3 separate regions of the Homo sapiens genome follow, and all the other regions are linked to region 1. The links come from fine-mapping of genetic effects on gene expression. A gene starts in region 1. Each other region holds a variant in brackets. All regions are shown on one strand. Distances are between the middles of the regions.

The links. PIP is the estimated chance that this variant, and not a neighbour inherited with it, causes the effect.
Region 2: its variant is fine-mapped to the expression of SLC5A5 in cerebellar hemisphere (GTEx, PIP above 0.99). The same link has a PIP of 0.9 or more in cerebellum.
Region 3: its variant is fine-mapped to the expression of SLC5A5 in whole blood (TOPMed, PIP above 0.99).

Annotation. Positions count from the first base shown.
Region 1 is chr19:17,870,368-17,874,600 of GRCh38, reverse strand. SLC5A5 (solute carrier family 5 member 5) reads right to left here and starts at 2,656. Exons shown (of 15, transcript NM_000453.3): 1 at 1,925-2,656; 2 at 398-463; 3 at 56-107. The coding sequence starts at 2,281. RefSeq lists a silencer at 192-321 and an enhancer at 114-886.
Region 2 is chr19:17,907,419-17,911,651 of GRCh38, reverse strand. No RefSeq gene overlaps it. Among named protein-coding and RNA genes, the nearest start is that of CCDC124, 23 kb to the left of the region's middle. The variant C/T (reference allele first, on the strand shown) is at 2,014.
Region 3 is chr19:17,849,943-17,854,175 of GRCh38, reverse strand. No RefSeq gene overlaps it. Among named protein-coding and RNA genes, the nearest start is that of JAK3, 4.1 kb to the right of the region's middle. The variant T/C (reference allele first, on the strand shown) is at 2,523.

The sequences.
Region 1 (4,233 bases):
CCTCTCCCTCCCTTTCTCTTCCCAGACATGCTTCCCTAATCTCCCAGAGTCACACCTTGGTTCAGGATGAGGGCCGGTGCGTAGATTACGATGCCGGTGTACAGCATCTGTAGACAGAGTGTGGGGCGGGTGAGCAGGGAGGGCGTCTGGGCGAGTTGGGGATGGGGAGAGGAGGCAGAAGGGTGGTCCCAGAATATGGGCGGGGCAGATAGGCCGGGTCTTCCAGAGTGCAGGCGGGGTCAGGCCGGCTGTGGTGTGGGAGGGGACTGATGGGGGCGGGGTCAGAACGGGAGCATGGGGGGCGGGGTCTGGGCGGGGTCTTGAATGGTGGGGGCCGGGCTAGTGAAGGCTGACGCTCTCGGGGCCCTGAGCGGAGGGCGGGGCCGAGGCCACTCACCGTGGCTACAATGTACTGCAAAGTCCCGCAGAGCCGCACTGCGCGGCTGAAGCGCATCTCCAGGTACTGCAAGGAGGGACTCGAGGTCACCTGGACAGTCCTTACCCAGGAGCCGAGGCCTCTCGGGTCCCTGGTCTGCTCTCTAGGTGGGCCCCTCCCTCCGGAAGCCAACCGCGCCCGCCAGATTCTTGCACGTGGGGGCCCCGCCGCACGCACACACCCGTGCACAGGTGCCATCCCGTGCCTGTGCGTACCCCGTGGACCTGGAGGACTGGTCCATGCGTGTGCACGCGCCCTCCCACTTGCGCCTGACGGGCGCGGGCTCCTGGAGCAGCCACCGCTCAGCAGACACCGACGTGGCCCGCAAGCGCACAGTGTAGACAGTGCCCCGGGCCAATGGTGTTGGCCGCCTAGGATATACCTGTCACGATTTTTTTGGGGGGGAGGGGGGACGGAGTCTCGCTCTGTCGCCCAGGCTAGGGTGCACTGGCACGATCTCGGCTCACTGCAACCTCCGCCTCCCAGGTTCAAGCAATTCTTCTGCCTCAGCCTCCTGAGTAGCTGGGATTACAGGCGCGCGCGACCATGCCCGGCTAATTTTTGTATTTTTAGTAAAGACGGGGTTTCACCATGTTAGCCAGGCTGGTCTTGAACTCCTGACCTCGTGATCCACCCACCTCGGCCTCCCAAAGTGCTGGGATTACAGGCGTGAGCCACTGCGCCCTGCCACAATATTTTTTTTTCCTTTGAGACAAGAGTCTCGCTCTGTCGCCCAGGCTGGAGTGCAGTGACGCGATATCGGCTCACTGCAACCTCCCGGGTTCAAGCAATTCTCCTGTCTTAGCCTCCCAAGTAGCTGGGATTACAGGTGCCCACCACCACATCCGGCTAATTTTTGTATTTTTAGTAGAGACGGGGTTTCGCCATGTTGGCCAGGCTGGTCTTGAACTCCTGACCTCAGGTGATCTGCATGCTTTGGCCTCCCAAAGTGCTGGGATTACAGGCGTGAGCCACCGCACCGGGCCCCGGTCACGATTTTAATCGCTTTACCCTCTCCCCTGGAGGGAGGTCCTGTAATTCGCCCATTGGACAGCTGGGAAACCCAAACAGAGAGGCACGCCCCTTGCCCAAGATACAAGAAAGCAGTGAAGCCAGGTTTCGAACCCCGGAGCCGTCAGCAGTCCCCTCTAGCGCGCACACGTGGGTCTGCACGCCCGGGCAGGTGGGGGGCAGGTGTGTGTCCACCCGTGAGGACACACCTGGTCGAGCCGGGCCCCGCCCCGCGCGCGCTTCCACCGAAGGAGCAGGACGCCAGGCTCTCTCTTCCTCCTTCCTGCCCCTCGCCGGGCGCCTGGGGCCTCTTCCTAGAACCCTCCCCACGTGTCTGCCTAGGGGCCCCTTCCGTTAAAGCACCGAGGTGCCATCCGCGTCCTCCTGTACAGCGGCCCAAAGCCCCAGCGCCTCCCCCACACGGGGTCCCAGCACTGCCAGTGGGGCAGGTCCTACCCCCGGGCCTCTGTCCGGTACCTCGTAGGTGCTGGTGAGGCCCAGGCGGTAGAAGACGGGCATGAAGAGCAGGGCGGTGAGGACCGAGTTCAGAAGCTGGCCCAGGCACATCCAGAGGAACTTGAGGCCATAGCGATAGGCCTCCGACGGCACGCCCAGCACCTGCACGGCCGACATGAAGCTGGCAGACAGCGACAGGCCCACGGGCAGGGCCGCCAGGCGCCGGCCCCCGGTGAAGAAGTCCTCAGCGCTGCGCTGCCCGCCCCGAGCCAGCCCGACCCACAGCCCGATGCCAGTGGACACCAGGAGCATGAGGGCAAAGACCCCGTAGTCCCAGGCTCCGAAGGTGGGCCGTTCCCCGGTCTCCACGGCCTCCATGAGGGCGGGTGCGGAGGCCCAGCGCGTCCTCGGACGCCCTGCGTGCTCAAGCGGGGGAAGCTGGCAGGGGCCGAGGAGGCAGGACGGGGAGGGCGGGTGGGAGGATGCTCGGCAGCCTGTCCCCGCTCCGTCTGGGGTGGGAAGCGGCGAGAGGGGCCGGGGCTCCCTGGGTTAGGAATCTATGGGCTGTCGATGTCCGTGTCGGCCTCCCTGTCCCCGCTGTCTGTCTCTGCGTCCGCCCCTGCTGTCTGTCTGTCCTGCCACCTCCCCTCTCACTCTGGGTTCCGCTGTCCCATGCAGCCGGCTGTCTGTCCCTCTCCCTGGGCGCTGTGCTCAGCGCTGACAGCTGGAGGTCGCCTTGGGGCTTACGGGAGCAGCTCGTGATTGTGGGTTGCAGATTTATTGGGCTCCCGGGTCACCGCGACTCCGCCTCCAGACCTAGGGGCGGGCAGGACCCGCACCCTTTCAGCCCTGGACTGGGACAGACAGGCCAGGACAGGCTATCTGGGTGGCTGCAGGGGGTGGTATCGGGGAGGGCTCCCAAATGCCCCTCCATCCCCATGCACCCACCCATCCCCATGCACTGTGATCCCCTGATCACAGCTGTCACTGTCTGCTGTTGACAGGTGGGGAAATTGAGGCTCAGAGAGGGCATGTCACTATCCAAGCCTGCACAGCCTGCTTCAGCACTCAAAGCCGTATTGTGCTTGAATACCTTGAGCTATGGGGAGCTCACTTTCATGCAGGACTGGGGTTCACTTTCAGGGTTTCAGGGGACCCATAAAGAAAACTTACCTGGCTTTACCACCCCCAAACTGGCATGTGGGCCTACCCCCTTTCTCTAGAGCCTTAGGGGGTGGGCATCACTGAACCCCGCTCTTGGGCTAAGCTGGGTGGGAGACATTCAGAGCTCAAGTTCTGAGTGGGTACATACTTGGGGAAGACTTTGCTCCTCCCTGGGCCTTAGTTTCCCCATCTGTAACAAGGATAAAATAGACCCTGCCTCAGAGGAATAAATGGGACGTGGTAACGAAAGCCTGGTACATGATAAGTGCCTCATTCATTTATTCCTTTATTCATTTGTCACTTCATTCATTCATTCATTGGTTCCTTTGCAGATATGCACTGAGAGTTGGCCCTGTGCCAGGCATAAATGGCTCACTGAGGTGGTGCGAGGGGCCTTTAAGGTTATGAACCCGAATAAGCGGAGACCATGACCACCAGGGAGGTAGAGTCTGGCTTGTCCCTATCATATAGATGAGGAAACCAAGGTTGGGTGTGGGAGAAAGTCTACTGGGGGGGTCACGCTTCCATGAGGACCAACGAGCTGTCATCTCAGGGCCCTTCTCTGGGGGACCCAGGAGGACTTTGACCTCTGGAGGTTCTGGTCTCTGGGTTCAAGTCTCAGCTCAGCCTCCAACTTTCTGGGCAATCACGCATCTCAAACTTGGTTCCCTTCTCCATAAGCTGGTGGAATCTGAAATCCTGGGGGTTGAAAGAAACAGCGTCAGAGGCCGGGCATGATGGCTTATGCCTGTAATCCCAGCACTTTGGGAGGCTGAAGTGGGAGGATCATTTGAGTCCCAGAATTCGAGACTACCCTGAGCAACATAGTGAGATCTTGTCTGTATGAAAAATACAAATATTAGCGAGGCGTGGTGGCACATGCCTGTAATCCCAGCTACTCAGGAGGCTGAAGTGGGAGGATCGCTTGAGCGTGGAAGTTCGAGGCTGCAATGAGCTGTGGTCGAGAACTGCACAGCACTCCAGCCTGGGCAGCACAGCAAGACCCCGTCTCCAAAAAAAAAAAAAAAAAAAAAAAAAGGGCTTTTGAGCGCTTCTCGCCAGCCTCTGCTGCTCCCTGGTGGCCTCCTCTGGCCTACCCTCTGCCCTGGCCGCTCCAGCTGGGTCCAGCGTTTCTCAACGCGTCCCCACGTAACCCCCGGACAGTC
Region 2 (4,233 bases), 37 kb before region 1:
AGTGAGCTGAGATCGCACCACTGCGCTCCAGCCTGACAACAGAACGAGACTCCGTCTCAAAATAATAATAAATAAATAAATAAATAAATATTTGGTCTTTTGACCCCAGTTCCTGACAGAGTGATGGGAGTGTCTGACATAGAGCTCCTAAATCCCCTAGAGTTTCCTGGGTGATAGGAGCGTCTTTGGTTCTAAAAAGATGACTCTTGGTGGGTTCCTGGGTGGGGACCAACAAGACCAAGCCATCATTAGAAGCTTGGAGCTTTCAGCCCCACCCTCTTTCTCTGGAGACCGGAGAGGGGCTAGGGACTGAGTTAATAATCAATCATGCCTTCATAATGAAGCCCCCATAAAAATCCCCAAAAGATGGGGTTTGAAGAGCTTCCGAGTTGATGAACACATCTGCAGGTTGCAAGGGTGGGGTATCCCACTCTATAGAGACCATTGTGTCTCAAGGCGGGCTGTTTTGTGGGATTGAGCCCTTAACCTGCGGGATCTGATGCTGTGTCCGAGTAGATAGCATCGGAACCAAATTGCATCAGAGGAATCCCAGCTGGTGTCCACTGGAGAATTGCTTACTATGTGGAAAAAATAAAGACAACCCACACATCTGGTGTCAGAAGTGTGGTGTTGAGTGGGATGTGTGTTTTGTTTGTTCCTCTTACATTGTGTTTTGAAATAAAACCAATACTCAGCCGCAAAGCAACCGCATTGGTCACCCTTCTGCAACGATTGTGTTAATGTTTTTCTTGATTTCGTCAAACATGAGAGCCGCAGGGGTCTGCAGATTTTCATAACAAGGCCTCCAGGACAAATTGGCTCTTGAAATTATTTTGTGATTAAAAAGAAAAAAGAAAAGCCAAATTTAAAAAAATAAATTAAAAGAAGATTTAATAAGATTTATATGTATTCAAAAGAAGATTTAGTAAGATTTGTATGTATTCACCAGGAAACATGTTTTATGATTTGTTTTGGAAGGGCAAAAGCAATTTCCACAGTAATGTGAATTTTGTAATCTAATATTCTTTTTTTTTCTTTTTTTAGATTTTTGAGGCAGGGTCTCACTCCCATCACCCAGGCTGAAGTGCAGTAGCATGATCACAACTCACTGCAGCCTCAACTTCCCAGGCTCGGGCGATCCTCCCACCTCAGCCTCCTGTGTAGCTGGGACCACAGGCATGCATCACCATACCAGGCTAATATTTGTATTTTTTGTAGAGATGCAGTTTCACCATGTTGCCCAGGCTGGTCTCAAACTCCTGGGCTCAGATGATCGCCCCACCTCCCAAAGTGGTGGGATTACAGGCGTGAGGCACTGCACCTGGCTCATTTTTCTAAGAAAAAAAAAAATCTTTCTGTCTAGATTTTTTTTTTTCATGTTTGAGGGCTCTGCATTGCTGGGGCAACTGTGGATTTGACCAGCTCCTTGAACAATCCATTGCCAGGTCAGGACTTGGAGAAAGCAACGTGGATGACCCAGAGAGGGGCAGCGACTGGCTGCAGGCCACACAGCAATTTCATCAAGATTCCATCCTTAGGCCAGGAGTGGTGGCTCACGCCTATAATCCCAGCATTTTGGAAGGCCTAGGTGGGCAGATCACTTGAGGTCAGGAGTTCAAGACCAGACTGGCCAACATGGCGAAACCTTGTCTCTACTAAAAATATGAAAATTAGCTGGGTGTGGTGGCGGGTGCCTGTAATCCCAGCTACTCGGGAGGCTGAGGCAGGAGAATCGCTTGAACCCGGGAGACGGAGGTTGCAGTGAGCCAAGAATATGCTACTGCACTCCAGCCTGGGTGACAGAGCAAGAGTCTGTCTCAAAAAAAAAAAAAAAAAAAGATTCCATCTTGGTGGGGTAGGTGGCATGAGGTGAGCTACCTCCTGAGAGCCACCAGTTTTGGGATGATCCTCAATCCCAGCCCGTCTCAGACCTGGCTCTGGGGAGAATAGGATGTAGGGGAGACCTTCCATCCTTGCCGTGCTGTGCCCCAGGTGGGCCTGGAGCCAGCTGCA[C/T]CTGAAGCTGACACAGCCCTGGGCCTCGGTAGGAGGCAAGTGGAGTCATTCCAGTGGAAACTTACCTGCTTCCTGCCTGGTCTTGTCTTCTGCTCCACCTGGCTTCTTGACAACTCTCCCGCTGTACCAGAAAGAATAGGAATTCAGGGCCTCAGTATTGGCTTAAGCTACAGATACCAAGATCAGCAGGGGAGACAGAGACAAGCCTGTGGACCTGAAGGGGAGGGGCCCCACCTCCCAGCCATTTAGGAGAACATTCAACAGGGCTGCAAGACAGGGCTCAGAGGACGAGGAGGAACAGGAGGCAAGGGCACTGCCTGGGGTGCTGGGGTAGGCAGCAGGGTTGCCCAGAGGAAGAGGAGATTCTGGGAGGAGGCCTCTGGAGCTGCTTGGTTGAAGTCACCCAGTTGACCTTATGCAGAAGTTCCAGGATTCCTATGGGAATCGGCTCAGCTGCAGGGTACTGAGCTGCCAGGAAGAGGTCAGGGCTCTTGGTGCATGCAAAAATGCTGAATAAAACATTAGCAAATTGAGTTCAGCTGTGCTTTAAAAGACACTATACTAGGAGTATGCGGGGTCTTATTCCAAAGAGACAAGGAAAGTTCAGCTTTAGAAAGCTTCATTTATTCAATGAAAAGATAAAAGGAGAAAAATTCCACGTGATTATTTCACCATGGAAAAACTTTAGATAACATTCAGAAACCACTTTCCTTTTTTTTTTTTAAGTTCTTAGAATTTTTCTTAAAAGTTCTGATCACCATTGATGGTGATTAGAAAGGAATCACCTGCATCCTGTTAGATGGTAAAACAGAGCCGGGTGCAGTGGTTCATACATGTAATCCCAGCCCTTTGGGAGGCAGAGGCAGGCAGATCACCTGAGGTCAGGAGTTCGAGACCAGCCTGGCCAACATGGTGAAACCCTGCCTCTACTAAAAACACAAAAATTAGTCAGGCGTGGTGGCATGTGCCTGTAATCCCAGCTACTCAGGAGGCTGAGGCAGGAGAATCACTTGAACCTGGGAGGCAGAGGTTGCAGTGAGCTCAGATTGTGCCATTGCACTCTAGCCTGGGTGACATAGCAAGACTCTGTCCCCACCTCCACACACACACAAAACAAAAAAGATGGTAAAACAGGATGTACAACATATTTAAGAATGAGGCAGGAATGCCTCAAATCATGGCTAATATTTCGTGCTTATGTGGAGGTGCTGGACAATGCAATAAGATAAGAAAAAGAATTGAAACCAGATGATATGACCATTTACAGAAAATAAAAAAGAATAAATTAACAAAATGAATAGAACTGAGGAGGACGCTAAAAGCAAGACCAATATAGATTAACCATGGGGGACTATTTATTTATTTATTGAGACAGAGTCTCGCTCTGTCACCCAGGCTGGAATGCAATAGCATGGTCTCAGCTCACTGCAACTTCCACCTCCTGGGTTCCAGCGATCCTTCTGCCTCAGCCTCCCAAGTAGCTGGGACTACAGATGAGCGCCACCACTCCCAGCTAACTTTTGTATTTTTAGTAGAGACAGGGTTTCACCTTATTGGTCAGGCTGGTCTTGAACTCCTGACCTCTTGATTCACCCGCCTCAGCCTCCCAAAGTGCTGGGATTTCAGGCATGAGCCACTGCACCCAGCCAAATACAGGGGATTTTTAGGGCAGTGAAAATATTCAGTATGATAGGTTGTGATGTTGGATACACATCATTGTGCATTTGTCAAAACCAATAGAATACACAACCCAAGAGTGAACCCTAATGTAAAAGGTAGACTTCAGTAATAATAATGTATTAGGCTGGGTGCGGTGGCTCACACCTGTAATCCCAGCACTTTGGGAGGCCGAGGCAGGTGGATCACCTGAGATCAGGAGTTTGAGACCAGACTGACCAACATGGTGAAACCCCGTCTCTACTAAACACACAAAAAATTAGCAGGGCGTGGTGGCACACACCTGTAATCCTAGCTACTTGGGAGGCTAAGGCAGGAGAATTGCCTGAACTCAGGAGGCAGAGGTTGCAGTGAGCTGAGATCATGCCACTGCACTCCAGCCTGGGTGACAGAGCAAAACTCTGTCTCAAATAATAATAATAATAATAATGTATTAATATTTGTTCATCTATTGTAACAAATATACCACTCTAATGAAAGATATTAATAATAGGGGAAATTGTGGGGGTGAAGGAGAATAGAAGACGTATATGAGAGCTCTCT
Region 3 (4,233 bases), 20 kb after region 1:
AGGAGTTCCTGGTTAGCAGGGCTGTCCAAGGGCACCCCTGTCCCCCCTGTCTTTTTCCCAGGGACTTTGAAGGCACCAGTTTGTTCATCCAGGATCCTGGGCCAAGCCACAGCTTGGATCACGGAGCGTTCACAATGCTGATGTGCCTCATCCTTCCCACTCTTTCCCTCATCTCAGTTACTGGCACCAGTGCCTTCCCAAGGCTGGGCCCAAGACACCCAAATCTTGGTTTCTGACCGTTGGTCCTCAAAACACTGCAAAGCCACCCACTTGTATGCACTCCGGACTCCAGGTCCCTGGCCTTCTTTTTTTTTTTTTTTTTTTTTTGAGATGTAGCCTCTTTCCTGTCACGCAACCTTGAGTGCAATGCAGTGGCGCGATCTCAGCTCACTGCAACCTCCACCTCCCGAGTTCAAGCGATTCTCCTTCCTCAGCCTCCAGAGTAGCTGAGATTACAGGCGTGCGCCACCACACCCAGCTAATTTTTGTATTTTTAGCAGAGACGGGGTTTTACCATGTTGGCCAGGCTGGTCTTGAACTCCTGACCTGAGGTGATCCACCCACCTTGGCCTCCCGAAGTGCTAAGATTACAGGCATGAGCCACTGCACCCGGCCTTTTTTTTTTTTTTTTTTTTTTTTGAGACAGAGTTTTGCTCTTGTTGCCTAGGCTGGAGTGCAATGGTGTGATCTCGGCTTACCGCAGCCTCCACCTCCTGGGTTCAAGCGATTCTCCCACCTCAGCCTCCCAAGTAGCTGGAATTACAGGCATGCACCACCACATCCAGCTAATTTTGTTTTGTCAGTGGAGATGGGGTTTCTCCACGTTGATCAGGCTGGCCTCAAACTCCTGACCTGGGACTACAGGTGTGCACCACCATGCCCAGCTAATTTTTGTGTTTTTTTTGGTAGAGGTGGTGTTTCGCCACATTGCCCAGGCTGGTCTCAAACACAAGTTGTTTGTCAGAGACCAGCCTGCAATTCTCCCAGGGTGCTGGGATTACAGGCGTGAGCTACCATGCCCAGCCTAGGGGCCTCTTTTATAAGGGCATTAATCCCATTCATGAGAGCTCAACCCTCATGATCTAATCACCTCTTAAAAGGTTCCGATTCTGAATACCACCGCCTTCGAGGTTAGGATTTCAATGTATTAATTTTGGGGAGACGCAAACTCTCAGACCATCACAGTATTTTATCTTTTTCAGTGCTGCTGCAAAGGAAATTTTTCAAAATTTTTTTATGTTCCAATTGTTTGCTGCTGGTGTATAAAAATTCAATTGACTTTTGTATTGAATTCAACGGACTTTTTAAACCTGGTAACTTGCTGAATTTATGTATTAATTTCAGTAGTTGTCTTATAGATTCCCTTGGGTTTTTGACATAAACAATCATATCATCAGCAAATAGCAACAGTTTTATTTACCTTTTTTTTATTACTTATTTTATTCTGTTTTGCTTGTTACAGAATCTTGCTATGTTGCCTTTAAATTCTTGGGCTCCCATTTCAGCTTCTCCAGTAGCTGAGGCTACAAGCATGTATCACCATGCCCAGCCACACCTGACTTGTTTATTTTTCTCATATATTTTTTTGTTTTAAGACAGGATCTCGCTCTGTTGCCCAGACTGGAGTGTAATGGTGTGATGATGGCTTACTGCAGCCTTGTCCTCCCTGACTCAAGCAATCCTCAGCCTCCCAAATAGCTGGGACAACAGGTGTGAGCTATCACACCCTGCCAATTTTTAATTTTTTTTTTTTTTTTGAGACAGAGTCTCCCTCTGTCACCTAGGCTGGAGTGCAGTGGCGCGATCTTGGCTCACTGCAACCTTCACCTCCCGGGTTCAAGCGATTCTCCTGCCTCAGCCTCCTGAGTAGCTGGGATTACAGGCGCGCATCACCACGCACGGCTAATTTTTGTATTTTTACCATGCCTGGCTAATTTTTGTATTTTTAGTAGAGATGGGGTTTCACCATGTTGATCAGGCTGGTCTTGAACTCCTGACCTTGTGATTCTCCCACCTCAGCCTCCCAAAGTGCTGGGATTACAGGCGTGAGCCACCATGCCCAGCTTTTCTTTTCTTTCTTTCTTTTTTTTTTTTTTTAGACGGAGTCTCACTCTGTCACCCAGGCTGGAGTGCAGTGGCCCGATCTTGGCTCACTGCAAGCTCCGCCTCCCTGGTTCACACCATTCTCCTGCCTCAGCCTGCTTTTTCTTTTCTTATTACAGTGGCTAACATCACCAGAACAATGTTGAATAGAGGTGGTGAAAATGGACATCCTTGTCTTGTTTCCAATCTCAGGAGGAAGTTATTCAGTCTTTTACCATTTTTGTTTTTGTTTTTGAGATGTAGTCTCGCTCTGTCGCCCAGGCTGGAGTACAGTGGCACTATCTTGGCTCCCTGCAACCTCTGCCTCCTGGACTCAAGCCATCCTCCCACTTCAGTCTTCCAAGTAGCTGAGACTACAGGTGCACACCACCATGCCTGGCTAATTTTTGTATGTTTTGTAGAGACGGATCTCACCATGT[T/C]GCCCAGGCTAATCTCCAACTCCTGAGCTCAAATGATCCTCCCATGTTGACTTCCCAAAGTGCTCAGATTACAGGCATGAGCCACCGTGCCTGGCCCTGCCTCACTGTACTCTTAATTTTCATTTGGCAAGTGAAGCTGAGGAAATTTTTCTGGGTTTAAGAGCTATTTGTCCTCCATTTTCTCTGACTTCTGGATTCATATCCACCTAACTGGTTGGCATTTTCTTACTGCTTTCTAGATGTTACTTATATAACGAGGATATTTTATCCATGAGTTCAATTTTGTTTCCAGTTACACTTTGATTGTATTTTATTCTTTGATTGTATTTATGGACTTCTTGTCAGCAGAAAAATCTGGGTGTTTGCATCACTGACGTGCCCCATTTTTCTCGGGCAAGTTCTGGGTTCTGTCCCCAGAACTTCCTTTTTTTAAAAAAAATTATTTATTTATTTATTTATTTTTTGATACGGAGTCTTGCTGTGTCGCCCAGGCTGGAGTGCAGTTGTGCGATCTCGGCTCACTGCAACCTCCGCCTCCCAGGTTCAAGTGATTCTCTTGCCTCAGCCTCCTGAGTAGCTGGGACTGCAGGCGCCCGCCACCACACCCAGCTGCGTTTTGTATTTTTAGTAGAGATGGGGTTTCACCAGGTTGGCAAGGCCGGTCTCGAACTCCTAACCTCAGGCGATCCGCCCGCCTCGGCCTCCCAAAGTGCTGGGATTATAGGCGTGAGCCACCGCGCCCGGCCAGAACTTCCTTTTAGAGCCTTCACATGCCCTTCTCTGGGGCTGAAGGTACCACTTTGGTCCTCACCCCAATCTCCTCTTACTTATTCTCAAAATATTGCAGAAACCATCACACTGGAGGTAGCAGAGACCCAGAAACTCACTGTACTTCCGGAAAGCAGAGGCTTCAGCCTCAGGCCAAGGATGAGAACATAAGGTTGCATTCCCGTCTGCTGAAGCCACCCAGGAAGTGAAAGAAAACACTACAACTAAGCTTCTGCTTGGCACTTCCTGCCGCAGGTCAGCTGTGGCTCCACTAAGCTCCACTAAGCTGAGGACATAATCTATATCTCTTTCCCTTGACCCACGCGGCCCTACCCACGCCATCAAATGAGTCTCAGCCCCCCGTGTCCCTGACATCCTGCTCTTCTCAGGAACACTGTGAATTCGTGAAGCCTCCAGGCCTTTGCCTGGGCTGTTCTGCCTGCCAGAACTGCCCACACTCCCACATTCTCAGGTCACTCTCTGGCTAGTCCCACTTGTTGTTGGATTTCAGAATCAAAGCCACCTCCTCCAGGAAGCCCTCCCAGATCCAGTCATCTCTCTTAGCAGACCGGTCCCAGGGGCAACTGATATAATTATTGGGCAATAGCTTGTTTATTGCCATCTCCCCTGCTGGACTGTCAGCTCCCCTGGACAGGGATTGGGTCTGCATTGTCCCCGATTCCCTGCACACAGGCTGTGTCCAATAAGCCTCTGGCTGATTGAACAGTTAAGATCAACAAAATACTTACCAAACCATTTTGTGTTAAGACTTGTGATGGTGATACAGAGATGAAAAGTCTTTTTTTTTTTTTTTTTGAGACGGGATCTCACTCCCATTGCCCAGGCTGGAGTGCAGTGGCATGACCACAGCTAACTGCAGCCTCAACTTCCTGGGCTCAGGTGATCCTCCCACCTCAGCCTCCCCTAGTAGCTGGGACTACAG